Linked DNA regions of Homo sapiens. The protein of the gene in region 3 purifies or fractionates together with the protein of the main gene of each other region. This does not show direct contact. Each region holds a gene or a part of one and is shown on either strand. Other genes may lie near its edges. The genes, in order: DHCR24, RHOU and SLC12A2.

What was found.
Region 1: the proteins of SLC12A2 (region 3) and DHCR24 purify together in Homo sapiens (affinity purification with mass spectrometry; 2 studies listed by BioGRID and IntAct, with this or other methods). This does not show direct contact.
Region 2: the proteins of SLC12A2 (region 3) and RHOU purify together in Homo sapiens (affinity purification with mass spectrometry; 2 studies listed by BioGRID and IntAct, with this or other methods). This does not show direct contact.

What each region holds. Positions count from the first base shown.
Region 1 is NC_000001.11:54,884,196-54,891,858, reverse strand, and holds the start of DHCR24 (delta(24)-sterol reductase precursor), read left to right. Parts: upstream 1-4,663; 5' UTR 4,664-4,739; coding exon 4,740-4,970; intron 4,971-7,663. UniProt on the Homo sapiens protein: Catalyzes the reduction of the delta-24 double bond of sterol intermediates during cholesterol biosynthesis.
Region 2 is NC_000001.11:228,738,348-228,745,501, reverse strand, and holds part of RHOU (rho-related GTP-binding protein RhoU), read right to left. Parts: intron 2,218-7,154; coding exon 1,762-2,217; 3' UTR 1-1,761. UniProt on the Homo sapiens protein: Binds to and activates protein kinase PAK1. Plays a role in the regulation of cell morphology, cytoskeletal organization and focal adhesion assembly during cell migration. Also stimulates quiescent cells to reenter the cell cycle.
Region 3 is NC_000005.10:128,078,867-128,086,906, reverse strand, and holds the start of SLC12A2 (solute carrier family 12 member 2), read right to left. Parts: upstream 3,142-8,040; 5' UTR 2,953-3,141; coding exon 2,197-2,952; intron 1-2,196. UniProt on the Homo sapiens protein: Cation-chloride cotransporter which mediates the electroneutral transport of chloride, potassium and/or sodium ions across the membrane. Plays a vital role in the regulation of ionic balance and cell volume.

The DNA.
Region 1 (7,663 bases), on a different chromosome or scaffold from region 3:
GATATCTTCATGTGCTTCCATAATACCCTTATCATAGTACTTATGATGTTGATTTATAATTAATTCTTGATTGCCTAGATCCACACATGATCTGTCAGGAAAAGAATTGTGTCTAATTCACTACTGTGTCCCCAGCATTTTGCACAATTCCCGCACATTTAAAATCATTGAATGAATGTGCTGCAGAAATGGTTAATTTCCATCTGAAATTGGTTCCCCTTATTTTGCTAGATGTTGCTGTATATGATGTAGCACCTGGAACATGGCTGCTCTGCCCTCATCAGGGGAGTTAACCTGAGAAGACAGAGTAGGCAAAAGATAAAAAGAACTGGGTCTTTCAAATTGTCACTGAACCAATGAATTAACCAACTCTTGGTCAATCTGCATTCGGACTTCTTTTTTGTTTTGGACAGGGTCAGTCTATCACCCAGGCTGGAGTACAGTGGTGCTATCCATAGATCACTGCAGCCTCAACCTTCCGGATTCAAACGATTCTCCTGCCTCAGCCTCCCAAGTAGCTGGGATTATAGGTATGCACCACCATGCCAGGCTAATTTTTGGATTTTCAGTAGAGACGGGGTTTCACCATGTTGGCCAGGCTGGTCTCGAACTCCTGACCTCAAGTGACCCACCTCCCCCAGGCCTCCCAAAGTGCTGGGATTACAGGCATGAGCCACCAACCTTGGCCTGTTAGGGCTTTACTTTAAAACAAAGAAAACAAAGGTAATACTATATATATTTTTTTTTTTCTTTTTTCTTTTTTGAGACAGAGTCTTGCTCTGCTGCCCAGGCTGGAGTGCAGTGGCATGATCTCAGCTCATTGCAAGCTCTGCCTCCTGGGTTCACGCCATTCTCCTGTCTCAGCCTCCTGAGTAGCTGGGACTACAGGCACCCGCCACCACACCCAGCTAATTTTTTGTATTTTTAGTAGAGATGGGGTTTCACCACATTAGCCAGGATGGTCTTGATCTCCTGACCTTGTGATCTTCCCGCCTCAGCCTCCCAAAGTGCTGGGATTACAGGCGTGAGCCACCGCACCTGGCCAAACAAAGGTAATATTCTTAAAGAAGTTCCAGGATTAATACTCAGTCCAATCTCCTAAATTTTAGCATGCATAAGAATAACGTAGCTGACTTCTTAAAAAGTAGATTTCTGGCCCCACTTCTGGAGATTTAGCTTCAGTGGGATATGGTAGAGTCTAGGACTCTGCATTTTAGCAAGCATTCTGATGTAGTTGGTCTACAAACCACACTTCAACAAACCCTGTTCTAAAACTTCTACTTCATATCTATGGAACGGAACCACATGAATGGCTCCCAACTTCTGGATCTTTCCATCATTTGAATCTGCTCCCTTGATTATTGTGTGAAGTGTAGTTTGCAGACCAACTGCATTAGAATTCTCTATTCACCAGAATAAGACATTGATCAGGTAAGTCACTTAACCTGAGTCTAAATGTCCCCATTTATTTAAAAAAAAATACATATTAATTCCCTGCATTGCCACTCCTGAGACTGGTTGCAAAGATCAAATGATCTCAGTAGCTGCACTGTACAAATATAAGAAAATGCAATTTGTTAGGACTCTGGTATTTATCATGCTCCTTTACTGAAGAAAAAAAAAACTGTTCTTTACACTCTATTTATTAAGAAAGAAATAGAGGCTCACATTGTAGAAAGATTGCTACGTGGTCAAACTATAAAAGGGGTTTACCTAGTTAACCTGAAAAGTTCTTGCCCAGAACATCCTATTCCTAAGCATTCTGACTGTCTGCATGCTCCATCAACTCTGTAAGTAATGTATAATATGAATAGATTCCCTGACAAAGGAAGCTGCTTTGACTCCAGCAAAAATTAGTAGGTCCAAGGTTATATATCATATGATTCCATTCATATGACCTTCTGGAAAAAAAACAAAACTATAGTGACAGAACAGGGCAATGATTGCCAGGGGCTAGGAGGTAGGGGAGAGTATGACTACAAAGGGGCAGCAGAGGGAGTTTTTTGGGGTGGTGGAACTATTCTGTATCCTCATTGTGGTAGTAGTTACAGGAATCCTCATCATGCTAAAATTCATCAGCTGTACAAAGATTAAGCAGTTTTACTATATGTTAACTTAAAAAATTAATTAATTGATTGGCTCAACTCAAGTGACTGCTTTCCTTACCTGGATAAAAGCAACCCAAAGGATTAGAGTTTGGGGAGACAGAAAAGAAGAATCAGAAATATGAGGAGGGTAGGCAGGAAGAGAGAATGAGAAACGTGCACACTGAATAAACAATTGTTCTGAGTACTTTTTCACTTTTTTGTTGTTGAGACAGCCTGTTGCTAACACTAGTATGCAGTGGCGTGATCATGGCTCACTGCAGCCTTGACCTCCCAGGCTCAAGTGATCGGTCCTCCCACCTCAACCTCCTGAGTAGTTGAGACTACAAGTGCATGCCACAATGCCCAGCTTTTTTTTTTATTCTTTTTTTTTTTTTTTTAGAGACAGGGTCTTGCTATGTTGCCCAGGCTTGTCTTGAATTCTTGGGCTCAAGCAATCTGCCCCTCTTGGCCTCTCAAAGTGCTGAGATTACAGGCATGAACCACCACACCCAGCCTGAGTACTTTTTTATTCCTTTCCTTTTTTGGGAGTTGTTTCCTAAAGATCAGTTGTATCTACTTTCTGGGACTCCATCCTTCTCTTCCCAAGTATAAAACTATTCTGATTAACCAGTAATTTCCACTGTTTCTCCTACACAACACTCTTCAGTTAATTTTTAGGTAAATTTTACTTTCCAGATTACCTCACACCCCCAAAATAATCAGAATGGTTAAGCTTCTAAAGCAAAGCCCTCTTTAACAGAGTCAGACAGAATCGGGGAGAGGCATTTTTCACATTGGCTTTCCTCTTCATACTTCACTGTCCCCCTGTTGGTTGGAGCTTCTAGAGATGTAATACAAGACAAATCTGTAATTTTAAATTTTCTAGTAGCCACCTTAAAAAAGTAAATAAAACAGGTGAAATTAATTCTAATACTATATTTTACTTAATATATCAAAATGTTATTTCAACATGTCATTAACATAAAAATTACTAATGAGCTATTTTGCATTTTTTCTTTGTACTAAGTCTTTGAAATCCAGTGTGTGTTTTACTCTTAAAGGGCATTTCAGTTTGGACTAGCCACATACCAGTAGCTCATAGCTGTTGTGTAAGACAGTACAGGTCCAGGCTATTTATTTTTGAAGTCCAGTGCAAACAACCTCTCATTCTTTGCACTTTGATAACTTGAATATTTGAGCCTACAATCTTCATTCATTCATTGGTCAACAGCCGCTGGAGTGTTTACTGTGCACAAAGCACCGTGCTAGAAGCTGGAAGGACAAAAGTGAACAAGACATTGTTTGCCCTAAGGCTCAGTCTGTGGGGGTGAGAGACACATAAAGAGACAATTATAAAATAACATGAAAGAACGGTGACAGAGATGCACACTATTTAATGAGCATCTGGATGGGCAGGGGAGTGCTCTAAATGTTTCAGAGGTGGCCCTGAGCTGGCTTCGGAATGTGTGAGGTGAACTCTGAGAAGGGGATGGGAAAGGGCATTCAGAGGTACTAGCTTGACCAGAGGCGCGCAAATGAGGAATGCTGAGGCCCAGGGAGCCTCCTGAGTGCATGTCAGGGCAGAGATGAATGGAGAGGGAACTGGATAGGTATGCAAGGCCAGACAGAGAAGAACCTGGTATGTCATGTTTAGCTTCTAAACTAAAACATCTCGAAAACTTCCTAAAATTCCATATGAAATGCAAATGGCGCTGGATTTCAGCTTTTGCTGGTAACCGTGGCAGCTCCCCTACACTGGTTGCTGAGTGAGGGCAGGGCCATCTGCTTTGCTCACCACCCTACCCGAGGCTTGCAACACTGCCTGGCACAGAGCGGGCCTGGGGAGTTTACTCGGGCTGAAATGCCTTCCTTCATTCTTTCTCCTCCGGGCCTCCCATCTGCCTCAGTGAACTGGAAAAAGAGGAAGAGTGCCAGCCATAGCCTTCCATGCTTCCAATGGCCTCTGGAGTTCACGAACAGGTCTTCACCTTTCTGGGCTGCTTCCAAGTGTACACAATGGAGCTCACCACTCCCCACTGCCCAGGACTGCTGTGTAGCTCAAATGAATTCGTGGAAAGTGCCCCCTAAAAATGAAAAGATGCCTCTGGAGACCTTGCGCACACCGAGTGGCACGACCTGCAGAGGTTACCGCCAGGTTTCCATCCTCCGCGCCCGGGAACCGCCTGTCCGGCCAAAGGGTGACTGACTCAGGGCCGGGGCGCCTCCCAGCCCTCCGGCGGAAAGCCACTGCAAAACCGCTTAAGGCGCGTTTGGAAGAGGCGGCCCCGCAGCCCCGAGGGCCTGGGGCCCTGAGTCCCAACTGCCCACCCCCAGTATTCGCAGCGGACCCCACCGGCACCCAGTCCCTGGCACCCCCGCCTCGCGCGGCGGCGGGGAGAAAAGGGTGGAGCGGTCCGACTCCCGCAGCCAATGAAAGCTGCGGGTTCCTGGTCCGATCCCCGGCGCGGCTCGCCATTGGTCGCCGCCCGGGTCTCGGCCCACCGAACCTCGGCGACCCGAGCCAATCGCGAGGCGGCGGGCGATCCCGGGCTCCCCGGGCTGTGGGCTACAGGCGCAGAGCGGGCCAGGCGCGGAGCTGGCGGCAGTGACAGGAGGCGCGAACCCGCAGCGCTTACCGCGCGGCGCCGCACCATGGAGCCCGCCGTGTCGCTGGCCGTGTGCGCGCTGCTCTTCCTGCTGTGGGTGCGCCTGAAGGGGCTGGAGTTCGTGCTCATCCACCAGCGCTGGGTGTTCGTGTGCCTCTTCCTCCTGCCGCTCTCGCTTATCTTCGATATCTACTACTACGTGCGCGCCTGGGTGGTGTTCAAGCTCAGCAGCGCTCCGCGCCTGCACGAGCAGCGCGTGCGGGACATCCAGAAGCAGGTGAGCGGCGCCGGGTGCGGCCGGGACTCAGGGCCGGAGGCGGCGTGCGCGGGGATAGCGGGACGCGAGGTGGCGACGGGAGCTGCGGTGCGGGGGCGGCCAGGACTTCCTGGGGGGGTGGGGAGCTGGCGTTGGAGAGGGGTTGGAACGAAACAAAAATGTGATGGGGGCGGGGGAACAGAACAGGCAAAGTGCCCACTGTGTGCAGGGCATATGCGGGTACCTGGAGGGAGATGAAGAAGGGGAAGAGGGGGAGGTGCGAAGCACTCAGGTAACTCTCACCCGGCCCAAGCATTTCAGAGAAGGAAAGGCTTCCGGGAGGTGGAGCTGGGTCTAGAGATTGGGAAGTATGGGAAATGATTGGGGGAAGGTGTGTGGGTGGAGGGACTGGTGTGAGCAAATGCTGGGAAGCCGACAAGTGCAGGGCAGGGGCGGGAGAACGTCGGAAAAGTCCGTTTGGTGCTAGGCTGGAGAGGGGCCTTGATGCCAAGGCCGAGTTTGGACTTTATTTTGTACAGCAAGACGCTTTTGATTGGGTTTAGGATAGAAGACTAAAGCAAGAAGGTAGAACCCAGCCCAGAAGCGGGAGGGAAGAACCTCACAGCCTCTGCTGACGGAGGGCTCACTCCTTGACAAAGGCAGTCGGTCCATCTCTCAGTTCCTCAGGCACCCACGGAGCCTGTGACCTGCTGTGGCTCACAGTGGAGCCTCCTCTGCATCCAGGGACTTGGGCAGTTTCTTGACTCCCTCTGCTTCTCTTTATGTTCCTCTCTTGTTGGCATCAGGTTGCAGAGAGCTTCTGTTTCCTGCTGCCACCCTTCCGTAGGTGTAGCAGCCTCCATATTCTGCTTGCTCCGCGCTGGGTGCTTCAGGCAAGAGCATGAAGATGGATGCGGAGAGACGTTCCCATGAGGCATAAGACCTGGGGCCTGGTGGGAGAACGCAGTGTCTGGAAGTGCTTTGCCCTGTAGCTCTGGATTTTGCTGGTCACAGTCATGGCTCCAGAGCCTCTGCGTGTCCTCCCTCCCCACCTGCACCCTGTTTCCTAGCTCTTTTCTCGAGTTCAAATTCTCCATTTACCTGCTTGTCTCCCCTGTCAGACTGTGAGCTCCTAGAATGCAGGGACTGTTATGTGACTCGCCTGTGGCCCATAGGGCCTGGCTCAAAACAGCCTAGCGAGTGCCTATTAATCTTGGCTAAGCCACAAGATTCACTGTGAGCAGGAAAACAGGGGCCCAGCTGGACTAGCCTCTACCCCAGACCTGCCATGTGCCATTGCCATCCTCACAGCAACCCTGGTAGATCTTGTGCCTATCTTACAAACAGGGAAAATTGAGTTTCAGAGTGTGAGTCATGTGCTCAGGAAGACTAGTCAGTAAATGGGGCTAGAACCTAGGTTAGCTCGATTTCAGAGCCTGAACTCTGACATTTCTTCTTTCCCAGGCTTTCCCTTCCCCCCTATAGGTCTGGTTCAGTTGCCTCACACCTGGCTTGTAATAGCTGTCTGACCTAGTTGCCCTTTTTTCTGGGCTCTCTGTTTGGCCTCCAGCTTCAGTGCAGCACCCCTAATCACTCCCTCCCATCTCTGGGCTTGTGTCAAACTCCGTGGCTGCAGATTCAGGCAGGGACGAGACCTGGTTGGTCGTGGAATCCTACCTATCATCCCTTTTCCCCCAAATCACAGGAATCTCTTCCTTAATACCTGCCCTGGCCTCTGATCAAAGAAAAGTCCTTCCCCGTGTTGAGCTGTTTGCCTAGCCAGCTCCAGTGCAGCCTTCTCCAGGAGACCTGACCAGTATTTGACCAGACTTTTGGTTGCAAGTGAAAGAAGCTCAATTCAAACTGACTTGAGCAAAAAGGGATTTTATTGGCTCAGGTCCTGAAAAGTCTGGGAGTACAACTGGATCAGGCATGGCTGGATCCAGGATCCTCTGTCCCCCATCTCCATCTGTCCATCCCTCTGCCATCTGTTGGCCCTGCTTTTCTAGGTTGACTTCATTCTCTGGAGCCTCTCTCCCTGCAGAGGCCCCAACAGTTTCTGGCTCATATCCAACCGGCTTAGCGACCCCAGTAAAGAGAGAGTGGCTGTCCTGGAACTGGTCTCATTGGCTTGACTTAATGAGATGTCATTAATCTGTCTCTGGCCAGAAGTATAGAATCAGTCCTCAGTCATGTACCCACCTCCTGGGGTAGGGGAGTAGAATCAGTCTCACTTGGACCAAAGGAAGATGGGGATTGTTAGAAGTGGATGAAGAGGAAATGGATGGTCACAGGTCAAAATGACAAATATCCACCCCCCCTGCACTTGTCTATCTCAGCAGAAAAGAAACACTTCCTCCTGCATTTCTGATGGGCTTGTCATCCATGGGCCATTTGTTCTGTGTTTTGTGCTCTGGTCACTTACCTTAGAGGTTTTGTAAAACCTCTTCCTTCCATTGGCTTGGTGGTCCTTCCCTGCTCCTCCTCTTCCCCTCAAAGTGATGCATGAGTTAACATATACAAATGTTTAAACAGGCCTTGGCATGTGATAAGCCTCCATACGTGTTAGCTATTACCCTGTGAACTGTTACCACAACTCCATCTATCTTTCCTGTCCTGAAGTCAAACAGTCCTGGCTATGAATCTCAGCTCTGCCATTTACCAATTGTGTGACTTTGGACAAGTTATTTTGCTTTTGAGTTTCCTTATCCTCG
Region 2 (7,154 bases), on a different chromosome or scaffold from region 3:
AATAAATAGAACCCCTAACCTAAAGTATAACCTGATCTTTTACTTTTTCTATAGAAAAACACAAACTGGATTTCTTTTTAACATAAAAAAGACAACACAAAACCCACAGAAAAATAAAATTCTTCTATCTAACTGGCTTTACAGATTTCCCTCATTAGTTGTGGATGTGACTTTGGTGGCTCTGGGTCACCCACCGCAAGCCCGACCCTGCAACTGAGTGTTCAGGCTGCCTTGTGGTGTCTCGGAAGCATTCCTACCAGAGTAAAAGCTATTCTCCTGAGATGGCACCTTTTTCTCCAGAAGATTCAGCCCTAACAGCTGCCACCTTGAAGGATGTATTTCACTGTCACAGGAAGCAGCCAAGTATGGGGGCCATGGTCCCGGCATGCACCTGGCTGGCTACACGCCCCGCCCCTCAGGAGTCCTCAGAGTCCACTGGCCTCTGCTGCTACTGCCCTGAAAGCCATCTGTGGCTTTAACTGGTTGTTTTAACAGGTTTCAAGAGATGTTCATTTTATTTTTTGTTTAGATTTAAGATGTCCTAAAAAATGTATATATTAAGATACACTTAAAAACATACTCTGAATATAATAAAAAAGATGTTGGTTCAAAAAAGGGTCAACAAGAAGAGGAAGCCAAGCTTCCTAGCATCTGTTTTTGTGGCCACGCTTTTCCCCATTAATGGTGTGAAAGTCTGAATCAACAGCAAATACAGCCATACAGACCTATGTATCTGTGTGCATGAGTGTGCATGGGTGTGCACACAGAGAAGTACATCTTGGCCGACTTAAGAAAAAATTATCTGTGTTGTGTCCCACAAACACTTGCTGTTGGCCTTTCAAGAGTATTCACCTCCCTGCCGAAGAGACAGCTTGAGTATGGAGGTTTAAAAACAATCCAGACAGGTGCTCCCTGTTGCCCTCGTTACCTAGGATTGAGGCAGTTTGGTGCACGTATTACAGTACCGAAAGCAAATGTCACTTTCTGATCTCCACAGGAACCACTCCCTAAAACATGAAACTACTGACCAACACTTGCTTTCCTCCGCATAGCACTTTGTCTGTGTTCATATGTGTCAACACAACTGGACTAAGAAAGAAAAGTCCCAATAAGGAAGTTTCCTTTTTTGACTACAGAGTGCCATACAGTCAGTGGGATGTTTTCTGTTGGTTGTTTTTAAATCATAAGTAACTGGGTATTAGCAATTGACAAAAGTGACTGGTTTGAGGTTTTGTAGGCAGAGGTCTCTCACTTTTTTTCTCAGATTTTTGCTCCTTAAAAAAAAGGCATGGTTTGCATGGAGTTTCAAAGCTAAGAACTATTGTTACCATGGTTGACCTGTGTACATAATGCACTGTGCATTAAGTAGCCCTTAATCAAGAGAGGGTTAACCATAGTGTTCCTCCCTTTTGCTCTTCTGTACATTATAATGTAGCAGAACTTCATTCTTAACATCCAGATTAGAGGTGTCTTCTTCATATTAGATATAAATTAACCAGAGGTCTAGAACTCTAAATTTCCAGAGATGTGAAAAATGTTTAATTTACTTCAAAAATATCTTGCATAAGTATCTCATCCCTAAGCTCAAACAAACAAGAAAATTAAAGGCAGAAAGAATACATAAAATTGAGAGCTCCTCCTATAATACATATACACACACTCTCGATATAGGTTCTACGCAGTAAAAGGAGTTGTTTCAGCTAATATAGCTTCTAATATCGATTTCATCTGAAAATAGCCTTTCTGGGTGTCTTGCCAGCATCATACGAAACAGCAGTACTTCTTCCACCAGGACTTGGAGAGGTTTTTCATTTTATCTGGAGTCCTGCTTTTAGACTTCTTTGGCTGTTGCTGAGTGTCCGAGTATTGAATGCCAGCGACGATGGCTGCATCAAAGACCTCTTTGAGGTTTTTTTGAGTCAAGGCTGAACACTCGATGTAGGAGGCGGCTTTGATTTCCTCGGCGCACAGCTTAGCCGCCTCTTCAGGCACTGGCTTTTCTTTGCATTTGTCCAACTCAATGAGGACTTTGACATCTTCTCTGAGATCCGACTGCGTTCCAACTAGGATGATGGGGGCTTTGGGACAGTGGCATCGAATCTCCGGCACCCATTTCTCACTGACGTTCTGGAAGGATGAGGGGCTCACGACACTGAAGCAGAGCAGGAAGATGTCTGTGTTGGTGTAGCAGAGAGGCCTCAGCTTGTCAAATTCATCCTGCAACCAAGCAAAGTACCCAAAAGTTATGTTTTCATGAATTCTCATCAGTAAAAAGATCACCTTCACATTTTTCATGAAAGGGTCTGGCAGGTGATAGAAGACCCGCTGGTTCTAGAAGGAAGAGCCAGCATCCTTGAAACGATCCTACTGTTTACCCAAGCGGGGCCAGTGCACCAGCGAAGGTGTGGCAGCCATCTGCTTTCAGGGCCAGCTATGGTCTGAACACTGCCAAACATGTTCAACGTGTTCATCGACACTCAAGACCTACTTACAGCTTAACATAGAAAAAGTGCTCAAAGTAGGTGGGTTCTAGAAATAAAATGGACTTAAGCCTTCAGCTGAGTGTAACCCAAACCTACTCTCAACTCTTGGTACTTAGCTACTCTTCTAAAATTCAGACCACACCCATATTGATCCTCAAGACTCCCACTCAAACCCAGTCTACGAACACAGCTCCTCTCTTTATCAATCCAGCCCTGCCTTTCCCAACAGCTCTGAGTGATGCCAATTTCATCCCATCTGCACTGTGCACACGCTCTGCCCACACTATGCACAGCAACGCAGAGTAATGCTAATCAGACTCAAGGCCAGACCAGAAATGGAGTTGAGGACCTTTGTCAGTCCATTGTCATCGTGACTCAGAAAACTTTTGCAGCTCAGTGCCACTTACAGACACTAGTTAATACATCCTCATTCTGGCTGTATCTTCTCTTCCTCCCTCCTTCCTTCATTTTCTCCTACTTCCTTTATCCTTGCCAGTACCCATGGCCTCCATGTACAGTGCTTTGGACAGATAAGAACTGGAGAATAGGCACGCCCACCCTACCCTTAAAGTATAGAGAAGTGGATAGAATAAGTTAGAGTTGATTACAAATAAACCAACGGTTGTGCTGCCAATGCTCTCCCGTGGTCATCCATTTAACAGACACACTGAACATCACCTACACTCAAGGCACAGTGGCAGGCGAGGGGATTTGGCTGTGAACAGACAGATGTTGTTCTCCAAATTACCATTTCTTTACAGAAAACATCCTATAGTTCCCTGTAGCACCATATTCAGCTAACTGACAACTTTTGCTCAACTCTTTTGTAGAAAAATATTTACTCTTTCCTATGTAAAATGTATATCTGTTGGTGCCAACCATCCTCAGGTATAAATAATTTCCCAATGACAAGAAAAAGTTCAACGCCATTCATGTTTTTCATTACTCAATTGACACACTCCGATTATTTACCAAGTACCATTTACATCACATTATACTCCATCCGTGGCTTTTTTCTCTTGGTATAAAAGAAACCTGTAACTTATTTGAATGTACTTTCTTCATTTGAGGCCCCATGTTTCAATTACGGGACGACAGCCAACCAACTAATCACATTAAAGTCAACCAGCTAAAATGCTCAGCAATCAATGTGGTATTTCAGAATGTCACTTGTGAGGCTTCTGTAAGCGAAAGTTGAAAAAGTATGACTTAGCCAAATGTGGTGGCACGTGCCTATAGTCACAGTTACTTGGGAAGCTGAGGCAGGGGGATCACTTGAGCCCTGGAGTTTGAGACCAGCCTGGGTGACATACCAAGACCCTGCTCTCTAAAAAAAATTTTTAAAAAGAAAAATAATGACTTAAGTTTCTTCATGCCAACTTTGTGATGAATAAATAAACACAGAAACACAGCCAGGTAGACTATGGCTCAGTCATGAAGATCTTTTAATGGAATGCTCCCTCTGTTCTTAGAGGGCCTCAAAGAAAGAAGCATAAAACTGAGACCAGTATTAAGGCAGCCCCCTCAGGTAGCTGCACCCCTGGCCATGCCCTGGTATCTGGGGTTGCATTACTGAGAAAAATAAAGGCAAGCACAAGGGCTGGGACTTCTGAGGGGGCTTTGGAAAGCTATCTCCCCAGATCTCTTGAGATTCTGGCTAAGGGGCTTGAGAAATAAAACAGAAATTAGACCCTCCTGCTCAGTGCCTGACCTGAAATCTTAGAAATAATGCAATACACACGTGCAATGAGGACAACTGGAATGCACCCTTAAGAAAAGGCGTTCTGAGGCCAAGCAATTTGCATGTGCTTGCCAGGTCTGTGGTACGGACACTGCACAGAAGTCTGATCAGGGTTGGCGGGGCAGAGAGACGAGACTGGATTCTACATCCCTCTGGTCTAGCTGCAACTTGATTTTTTTTTTTCAGTATAAGATTTTTCCAAGTACTTTATGGGTCAAAAGGCTGAAGAATTTTCAGCTTCTATTGGCAACTCTCCAGTGAACTACTCCTATTTCCGCAATACTTTTTTCTCTTATGCCAAAGGTATGTTTTTTCAAGCCTCCAGTCTGTCTCTGATCAATCTGCCCTTGAGTGATGTAAGACCAGTGTTAAAAACTCCTTTTGACATCTTATAGACTCGCCTACCCTCCCTAACAAGAAAAGCCAAAGTACAAGAAGTGATTTCTTCAGCATGTAGAGCCATCCATACTCTGCTCCCATCAACTTCTGTGGGAAACCCACACTCCAGCTCCACATCCCCAAGTTCTAGCCTATCTGTGCTCACGTTGATTCTCCAGGCATCTGAAGTGGAGGTCAGTGGAGTCACTTAACCCTCAAGGCTCTTATGTCAACTGCCTAGAAGAGGTATGTGTTCCTTCCTCCATAAGGAAACTTGGCAGGTATCACAGCAAGTCCCTTAAAATGTATTTTATCAGATCAGGACTAGGGAGAGTAGAAAAGAACTGCCACTTTGACCAGCTTGGCTAGTAGTCTAAACAAAGACTAATTTATAAATGGGGGATCAGGAAAACAAAAACAGAACAACTGACTTATCTTACCAGCAGCTTATTTTTCATAGTTTTTGAAGATGGTTCTTCTTCAAAAGTTTTGAAGTTGGTTCTAAAAGTCTACAAATTTTTAGATAGTGGTCTTATTCATTATTTAATTGGGTATACTCTTCTAACCAGTACACAAAGGTTAAGAAATACAGTAAATCTCATTGAAAATATTGCTAAGAGGCCAGAAGAATAATTTTCAAATAAACTGAAACTTACAAATGTAGCACCAAAACCTTCGTTTTTCCCTAATTATAAACTTTTTTGTGCAAAAATACTACTAAAGTGATGCTTGTGCTTCCCTGATTTTTAAACAGGAACAATTTAACTCTTCCTTGATGATTCAGTCATTTATGCAAAGTTCTTCTGGTAAAATTCCTATTTGTCTTTCAAAACTCTGCTCAGAGGTTTTCCTGCCAGGCCCAACCAGCCTGCACCTCTAAGCCCGAACCTCTTTTCTTCCCTTTGCTTGCTCCTTCACGAGCTTCCATTTGTCTTCCCTCCACACTGTAAGTCTATTAAGGGGCAGGCCCACAACTTATGTTTATACCCCCACCACCTGGTCCTTCTCTGGTTCATCCATTCTAAAACCACGAGATTAAGCCCTGCTATGTGCCAGGCACTATGCTGGGCACTGGGCATGAAACCCCAGCTCAAGAAGCTGCATCCTGCTTGAAGAGCCAACACTTACGGGGAGCCCAGTGGACAGTGATATTTGAGTGACATCCTGGGGCAGGTAGGTGCACTGAGCTTCTGCTCCAGCCCGTAAGGCTCCCTGCTAACTGTGCCTTTGGACTTCCTGTATTTTCCTGACTTCCATCTTATCCTCAGGGTCTGACTTCAGCAGGTCCGATGGCTATGTTTACTGACATGTTCCTCTGCCTGTGTTTTATTTTTTTTGAGATGGAATCTCTCTCTGTCAACCAGGCTGCAGGGCAGTGACGCGATCTCAGCCCACTGCAACCTCCGCCTCCCAGGTTCAAGCAACTGTCTGCCTCAGGCTCCTGAGTAGCTGCTATTACAGGCGCCCGGCACCACACCCAGCTAATTTTTGTATTTTTAGTAGAGACGGGGTTTCACCATCTTGGCCAGGCTGGTCTTGAACTCCTGACCTCATGATCCACCCGTCTCAGCCTCCCAAAGTGCTGGGATTACAGGCGTGAGCAACCGCGCCTGGCTGGCCATGTTTTAAAACTCAGAAAACCTGACCCCCTGGTAGACAAAGCATCCTCACTTCATACAAGGAAATGAAGCTTGAATTATAAATATCACCATTGCATTCAGAAAGATTCAGTGCTAGAAGTGACTGTATTCTTTGATTTTTCTTTTTTTTTACCCCCAAGAGATGGGATCTTGCTCTGTCGCCCAGGCTGGAGTGCAGTGGCACCATCATAGCTCACTACAGCCTCAAACTCCTGGGTTCAAGCGATCCTCTCACCTCAGCCTCCTGAGTGGCTGGTGGCTGGGACTACAGACAGTGCCACCACACCAGGCTAATTTTTTTATTTTGTAGAGATGATGTCTTGCTATGCTACCCAGGCTGGTCTCAAATTCCTGGCCTCATGCAATCCTCCCACCTCAGCCTCCCAAAGAGCATGAGCCACCACACCCAGCCTGATTTTTGTTTTCTACAGACAATACAATACGGACAGTGCTTGGTTTTTCCAAGCTGAAGTGCTCCCAAGCTATGGCCTGCACCAGCCCGGTGTTCCTTGGAGATCAAGGCTCCACGGTCTTATGTCATCTTCAGGTTTAAAAAATAAGATCTGTCCTTAGCTCTGAATCTGCTGTCCCAGAGTAGGTGAGCAACTTGGAAGCTCTGGCGTAGATGAGGCTCTGGGGGGCAGTGGAAAGCCAGTGCCTTCATAAACACAGATAGTCATGTGATGGCACCTCAGAAAGTGAAGGGGGCACTTTCACCTGCCTACAAAGTACCCCCGGAACTTTGCTGAACTCTAGAACATACTAGAGAGACAAGTTCATTAACTATCACTTTGCCAAAATCAAGTACCCCTGGGTGTTCACAAGGCACAGCCTGACTTCAATGACTCGAGTACCCACCAATGGGGGCTTCTTCTGGGGAACACAAAGAGGGAACCCTACACTCCCTGGCTA
Region 3 (8,040 bases):
CACTGAAGGCTAGAAACATTACAGAAGGTGTTAGAGAGGTAGAAGTCAATTTAGACAGAGTAAGGGACAACTTCTGGGGATCCAGCCAACCTGTTATAACCCCTCCTGTCTGCCCCTCTTTCGACAGTGATGTATAGTCATATTTGTACTACTTAACACCCATTTCTTTAATCCATCTGCTAAAATTCTAAGCAAAATTATCTTCAACATGTAGTTATTAGTTAAGCCAATAAAACAGTGGCCATAAAGATTATGAGTGGCAGAAGGTAAACTACAAAGAATTAAAGTACCTGTTGCATAAATGAAACTGAACATAATATTTATATACTACATTCACCTAATAACGTAAGAATTAACAGAATCTAAAATTGAGATCCTAGAGTCTTCTGAAGGGCCAATATAAGAGGGAAATAACAACTAGGTATTATTTTCCAGGCACTGAACATGGTCATTTTTATTGCGCTTTTTTTCTAATCTTCATGATAACCCTGAAAAGCTGAAGCTAAGAGGTTGGGTGATTTCTTCAACTACCATACAACTAACAGTACAGGTGTTGTTTTTTAGATACTTTGAACCAAAAAGCCAAGCAAAAAACACAAACACACAAATCTAAAGTTTTGGAGAACTTGAAGTGCTTTGTTATTGAGATAATTTAATTTAAAGTAGCAAAAACTTCCCTAGGAAGCATATAAGCTCAACATATATACCTTTCAATTGGATGTCTTTCTAAAACTTATGGGTAAATACAGATCACTTTACTGCTCACATACTTGGCTTTGGTAAAATAAATCTAAAATATATCTGTATAATATTTTCATTAGTAAAACTGTCCTAAGATAATGAAAATTGCCAGCTCCATATCTACTTTTGTCTACAATGATTTTTGAGTTTTGAAAAGAAAAAAGAATAGACTTGATAGAAACTACAGGAGTATGAATAAAAAATGTTTTAGACATTGTTTTGCTTCTGATTATGACAAAATACCACAATGGAATAACAAGAATAGTATTATCTAAAGCTAAATGATCTCAGGCTTTTAAACAATCAATAAGCTGTAAGAGCTCTGTAATTACCTCTGTGTGAATGTTACATTATCAAACACTGGGACAAGTACAATCTTGTATGAAATCACTGTATGAGATCAAATAATCATATCCAAAAGAAATCACATACTGGATTTAAACTTGTCCAAACTGTGATCATTTCAACCTATGTGGTACCATCCTCTTGCGTTCACAAATTCCATCAATGTAGTCATTACACACTTGTAAAGGAAGACTTCAAGTAATCCCGGCTCATAAAAAAGTTAAACATTAACGAAATCTCAAAAGCATCAATGTTATCTCAAAACAGTGACATTGAACGCTGAAGAAATAAGTCTTATGTGACCATAAAAAATAGTTACAAAAATCAATGAGTTTATGGGGATGGTTTTCTGTTTACAAAGTGTAACTGCTTATGGCAAAGACCCCACAGGTCTTTCTGGTCATCCTCTACAGAAAAACCAATTCTCCTGTTTCCCTTTTTTCTTTAAAGACTCGCCTCTGTCCCTTTTTTTTTAAATATACACCTCTCCCAAAACGTTTTCATCGCAAAAAAAAAGAGTTATGCCATTATTAGGAACAGCGTGTCCCAAGACAAGATCTCTATGATCCTTTGTATATTCAAGATTGCAAGAATTGAGCTTTAATAACTCATAGACCATAAACACACCCTGTTAAGGTTTTCCTTCAAACAGCAACATTCCCACTCTTGCGATCCCTAATAGGCGTACATAAGCCACACAACACAATCTTTCAAAACGACACAGATGGTAGGTGCTCTCCAACCTCTCTCGAGAGATCCTCACTGCACATTCTCCTCTAAAGGGCCCACAAACACTACTGTCATTCAGAGGGATGGTGACTGTTGAGCGTGGGTGGGAAAGAAAGTGCACACGAGATACCTAACTGGATGGGGAAGGTTGTTAGAGGCAGCCCTCCGGTATCACGTAACTAGCCAAACCCGCTACAAACTTTTGAGAGATTAAGTTAACATTCCTCGGCAATTCCACCCTTGACAGCTGAATCCAGAGATGCCAGCAAGTCGTGCACGTCTACTACTCCCGCCACCTCAACTCGGGAAGAGTCTGCAGCCACATCCCGCGGTCGGCATGCACCAGGGGCTGGGGAAGAAGGGAGGGCTGGGCGAGCTCACCTTTTCCAGCTCGTCGTGGAGCTCCGCCAGGCTAGGCCGGAGCAGCTTCTCGCCCAGCTGCGCGGCTGTGTGCCGGTAGTGATCGATCCTGGGCACAGCGTCCATGGTGTTGTGGCCGAAGGTGCGCAGGTAGTAGGTGTTGGTGTGGGTATCATAATAGTAGTGCTGGTGGTGCCCACTGCCGCCGCCGCCGCCGGAGTGCAGGCTGCTGCCCTCGCTCAGCACCGTGTCCCCGCCGTTCTGGAAGCTCACGTTGGGCCCGTCGACTCCGACCCCGGCAGCATCTGACAGGCTGTCTTCAGCCGACGAGGAGGCAGCTGGGTCCACGAAGTTCACGCGGAAGCGGCCCTTGGCTTCCTCGCTGCCTTTAGCCGGCTCGCTCTCGCCGCTGGCTTCCCCGTCCGCGGGGGTCTGCTTGGCCCCCGCCCCAGCACCAGCCGCCGCCGCTGCCGCCGCCGCCGCCGCCGCCGCAGCAGCGGCCCGCCCGGCGTTCTCGGAAACCAGGTCCACCTGGAAACGGCTCTGGCTCGGGGTGGGCCCCAAGGGTCTGCCCAGCCCGTCCCCGGCCGCCGCGGGGCCCTCATCGCGGACCCCGCCGCCGTCCCGGCTCGCGGGCGCAGCATCCTCCGGCACCGAGGGCACAGCCGTGCCGGGCAGTTCCACCCTGGCTGCGGCCAGCGCAGCGGCTGACGGCGTCTCCCCGACCCCGGCCAGTCCCGGGGCGCCGGAGGAGGGCGCCGTGGGCCGCGGCTCCATAGCTGCCCGACCCCCGGCGGAACTGCAGAGCCCGGCGGACGTCTCCGGCAGCACGCCCTCCACACCCCTGGCCGGCGGTGGCCACAGCCGCAAGACCAGGTGAGAGAGTCTTTCTCCCCGCCGCCTGCGGGCCGCCGCTAGCCTGGACGGCCACAGAGGCCACCGGCAGCCGAGCGAGCGCGCGAGTGTGGCGGGCGCGGGGCGGGCCCCGCTGTTTAAAGCCTCGGCGGGGCTGCGGCGGCGGCGGCTCCGGCAGCAGCACGCGGGAGGCGGGGCCGGAGGCTCCTCCGCCCCTCAGCCCGCCCACCCGCGGTCCCGCAGCGGCGCGCGGCTGACGCTCCCTCAGCGATCCGGCCCTCCGCGGCTCCTGCGCGACCCCACGCAAAAGCGCCCCGTGCGAAGAGCGCGGCCAGCCAGTCCGCAAAGGGCCTCGGGCAGTGCGGGCAGCACGAACGGCGCGATCGGGGAGCAGGCGCGGCTACGCTCCGCCTCAGTGATGTCGCCGGGAGGATCTCCGCGCGGCTACCTCCTCTTCCGCCGCCTTCCTCCCACGCCTTCACCTCCCTCCCCCGCCGCGCTCTGCGGCGAAAAGGAGCGGGCTCCCAGGCCACCTCCCCTCTCTCCACCCAGGGGCCGCGCGTCAGTGGACCTGCAGCCCAGGCAACGGGGCTGCGGACGGCGCGCGTGCCCTGCCTCGCCTCACGCCGGTAGCTGATGCTCCCGCGGCAGCTGCCACCCCAGCGCCCCAGCCACGGCTTCAGAGGCTCTCGCACGCTGGCTTTTTTTTTTTCCCCCCGCTTTGGTGAACTCGCAGTACTTGGGCTGAGCCCGAAATCTCGCGAGATGCTGCAGGCGTCAGTGCGGCTTCCCACTAGGCGCGTGGTACCCGAGGCCGGGCCGGAGCCGCAGGCCAGCCGCGATTCCTTCGGGCGATGCTGGGGGCTTTCCGGTCGGGGCCGCAGCCGCTTCCGGAGCCGCGGGCGAGGTGCGTTCCCCAGCCTGGTTTGCTCTGGGCTCTGACCCGCCGCCGCGAATCTCCGCTCGTAACTCCGGGCCTGAACCTGGAGGAGGGAGGATTTCCTCTGTGCAGCTTTCGAGCGGTAGACTCACCCTGCCAGGCAGACCTAGATTGGCATAACCAGAGATCAGTTCCAGTTGTGATGCAGTGGGTGTCTACACACTTCTGATGACACCTTTATTTTAAAAGCTGATGTTCCAAGGTGAGAAGGGAGCTTCTTTGAGACGTCATGTTGTTTCAAGACGAGTTTTAATTTAAGGCATTTCCAAAAGTGATATGCAGCTCATCTCTCAGAATACAATGCCGGCAATAACTACCCGTGGAGTCCTTACCAGGAGGTTTCTGCGTGATTTGGGTTGTGCAGAATTCCTCTGCTTATATAGAAACAGAAAGGTACTCCTCTGCAGGTCTAGTTTCTCTTCGGTAAAATGTAAGGGAATATAACTGTGTTCCCACTTTCTTAGCAGCAGAAATTTTTAAACCTATAGATTATGCCCAAAGTCCTAAGTAAAATCAATGAATGGCGTCCTCCAATTACTTGGTTTTTATTTATGTACTTTTTTTTTTTTTTTTTGAGACGGAGTCTCGCTCTGTCGCCCAAGCTGTAGTGCAGGGGTGCGATCTTGGCTCACTGCAAACTCCGCCTCCTGGGTTCACGCCATTCTCCTCCTGCCTCAGCCTCCTGAGTAGTTGGGACTACAGGCGCCCGCCATCACGCCCTGCTAATTTTTTGTATTTTTAGTAGAGTCGGGGTTTCACCGTGTTAGCCAGGATGGTCTCGATCTCCTGACCTCGTGATCCGCCCACCTCCGCCTCTCCAAGTGCTGGGATTACAGGCATGAGCCACCGCGCCCGGCCCTTGTATTTTTAAACTTTGACTTTATGGAGACGAACACCATCGTTTGCTGAACACTTGAAACATGATGAAAGAGCCACAGAGTTGGCAGAACTGTTTGAAAATGCTGTAAGTAAAAGCTGCAACCAGGCAATTTTCAAAAAATTGTCATAAACATGATCTTACTTGAACTTGACAACTTTTCAGGCTATTTTATTATCTCTATTTTTAAAGACGGTGAGAGGGGAAAACAGCTGTTGCATCAGGATTTTTAAAGCTCCTTTTGAGCTTTAGTAATAACCAGAGGAGGCCAGAAAAATGAGGTGGTCCTTTAAGCAGTGCAGTTTTCTACTAGGGAATTGCTGCATTAGTAGTTGATCCGTGCAGTACCTTTCAGCTCCACAACGAATTCTGCCACTATTGGAATTCAACATTCATTTAGTTGAATAAATACTGAACAGGTACTATGAGCTACTCTGTATTTACGGGATATAGCAGTGAGCAAAACGGACAATCCCATCTCTCATGGAGTTCTTTCTAGTGAGAAAGAGAAACAATAGACAAGATAAATAGGTAAAATACATAGCATCCAAGCAGTGAGTACTAAGGAAAGGGAAATGGGATATTTGTGTGAAATGAGGATCATAAAATTTTCCATAGGATGGCCTCACTGAGAAGGTGATATTTGAGTAAGGAAGTGAGTGATATGAGTTCTTGGGAAAAAAAGTGTCTGAAGCAGAGGGAAACCAAAGACCCAAAGGCAGGAGCATGCTTAGCATGCTCACGGAATTGCATGTAAGCCAGTTTGGCTGGAACTTGCTTAAGAGATGTGAAGAATCAAAGGCAATTACATCAGAGAGCTTAGGATATGGGATGTAGTAGATCAGAATGTTTAGGACCTTTTTTGGCTGTTAGACATACTTGACTTTTTTAGTAGAATAGTGTGTTAGTCAGCTCAGGCTGCCATAACAAAATACATAGATTGGGTGGCTCAAACAGTAGAAATATATTTTCTCACAGTTCTGCCTGCTGGAAGTCTGAGATCAGAATGCCAGCATGATCATGTTCGGGTTTTCTTTTTGGCTTGCAGACAGTACCTTCTCAATGTCTCCTCAGATGATAAAGAGAGCGTTGTCTCTTTTCTTATAAGGGCACCAGTTCTGTGGAATCAGGGCTTTACCCTGATCACCTCATTTAACCTTAATTATCTCCTTAAAAGGACTGTCTCCAATACAGTCACATAGGAGTGAGGAGAGGATTCGGGCTTCAACATATTAATTTAGCAGGGTACACAACAGTCCTTGGCAGATGGCAGGTTATTGGAAGGTTTCAGTGGAGGAATGACATCTGCCATTTTTAAAGGATTCATCTAGCTGTCTTGTAGGTAGGCAAGGGATAAATGGTTGGGTCAAAGAAGCAAGGAGATGTGTTAAGAGGTATTACAGCAATCCAGGAAGTGATGATAGCGCTTTGACCACAGTGGGTATCAGTGGAAATGGGGAAAAGTAGTTGAATTCTGGGGAAACAATAGAATTTGCTGATGGATGTGAAGTGTGAGAGTCCAAGGGTTTTGACCTCAGCAACTGGAAGAATAGTATTGCTATTTTCTGAGATGGCAAAGGAGGTTAAAGGAACAGGTTTGGGTTGGATGAATATCAGGAGCTTAGTCTGAGATGTCTGTTGGAAGAAACACACAAATGTGTATTAATAATAAATAGTAGTCACTCATATAAATTTGTAACTGCAAACAGAAGTTCTAGGGGATAGGAACGTAGTATAAGGAAAATGCAAAATAGGCCAGACTTAGTCAAGACAGAAGTGACTTTTTAGCAAAGGTCTAAAGGAAAATTAGGACCAAATTGTCACTAGAGGGTTTCCAACAAGGGAAATATTGTGGACAAATGCCCTCATGGAGTGAGCAGGGACTATCAAAGAAGCAAGAAGCTTGAAATCAGTTTGGTTAAAGCATAGGGAAGGATTGGGGGCAAAAGTAGTAAGAGATGTGTCTGTATTCTAAAAGCCCTATAAAAGCATTAATGGGTTTCTGGATAGATTGAGGGGCACATAATCAGATTTGTGCTTATTAAAACTCTCTAGGCCTGGCAAGGTGGCTCACACCTGTAATCCCAGCACTTGGGAGGCCAAGGCGGGTATATGGCTTGAGCTCAGGAATTCGAGACCAGCCTGGACAACAATAATGAAACCCCATCTCTACCAAAAAAACCCACAAAAATTCAAAAATTAGTGGGGCGTGGTGGCACGCACCTGTATTCCCAGCTCCCTGGGAGGCTGAGGTGGGAGGATCACTTGAGGTGGGGGTTGTAGTGAGCTATGATTGTGCCACAGCACCCAGCCTGGGCGACAGAGTGAGACACTGTCTCAAAAAATAAATAAATAAAAATAAAACTAGTTATATTATGAGCAGAAGAGTGGAGAAGAGGAAGAATAAGCATGGAAAGTCAGGACACAATTTCACTAATCTAGCTGTGAGTTGATAGTAGTAATAGTAGTTAGCCTTTATAGAGAATTTAGGTCCTGGATACTGTGCCAAAATCTATACATTCATAATCTTACTGAATTCTCGCAACACTATGAAGAAAATCATAAGATTACATCCATTTTACAGATGAAAAACTTGGTTAAGGAAAAAATAAGTAATTCCAACATTAATGAGCACATAAAAGACCTACAAAGGTCAGGAGGTGAGAAGAAAATCAGATGAAGGCATTTGAAAACAGGATCAGCTGTGTTAAATTGGGCCAAGAGGCAGAGAAAAATGAGTTGAATATATATTGACTTTAGTAACATGTATTAGCCAACAAAATGAGAGAGCAATGCAGTGAGGGGAGGGCCACAAACATTCCAGGAAATATCAAAGTGTATTATGTGAAACTTATGAAAAATTTATCAGGAGAGATCTCCTTTACTTAATTGTTGGCAAATATTTCATTGTCAGACTTACCAGGTGTCAGTTTAGAGACTAACCTTGAGAACAGACTTGCTATCAGTGCCGTGGTGGGAACCTGACTGATTTTGCTGTATTTCCTTTTTGCCACAAGGCCAGCCTTTGACATTGTGTGTGTCTGAGTACTTACTAATATTTATTTCATGTAGTTGGAATTTTAGGATTAGAAGTGACTTGCGTAGTTGTTTTCCAAACTTCTCAATTCACAAATGCCAAAGTATCCTAAAAGAAGATATAAATTATGTTAGACCTACAACTTCTCATATCTGC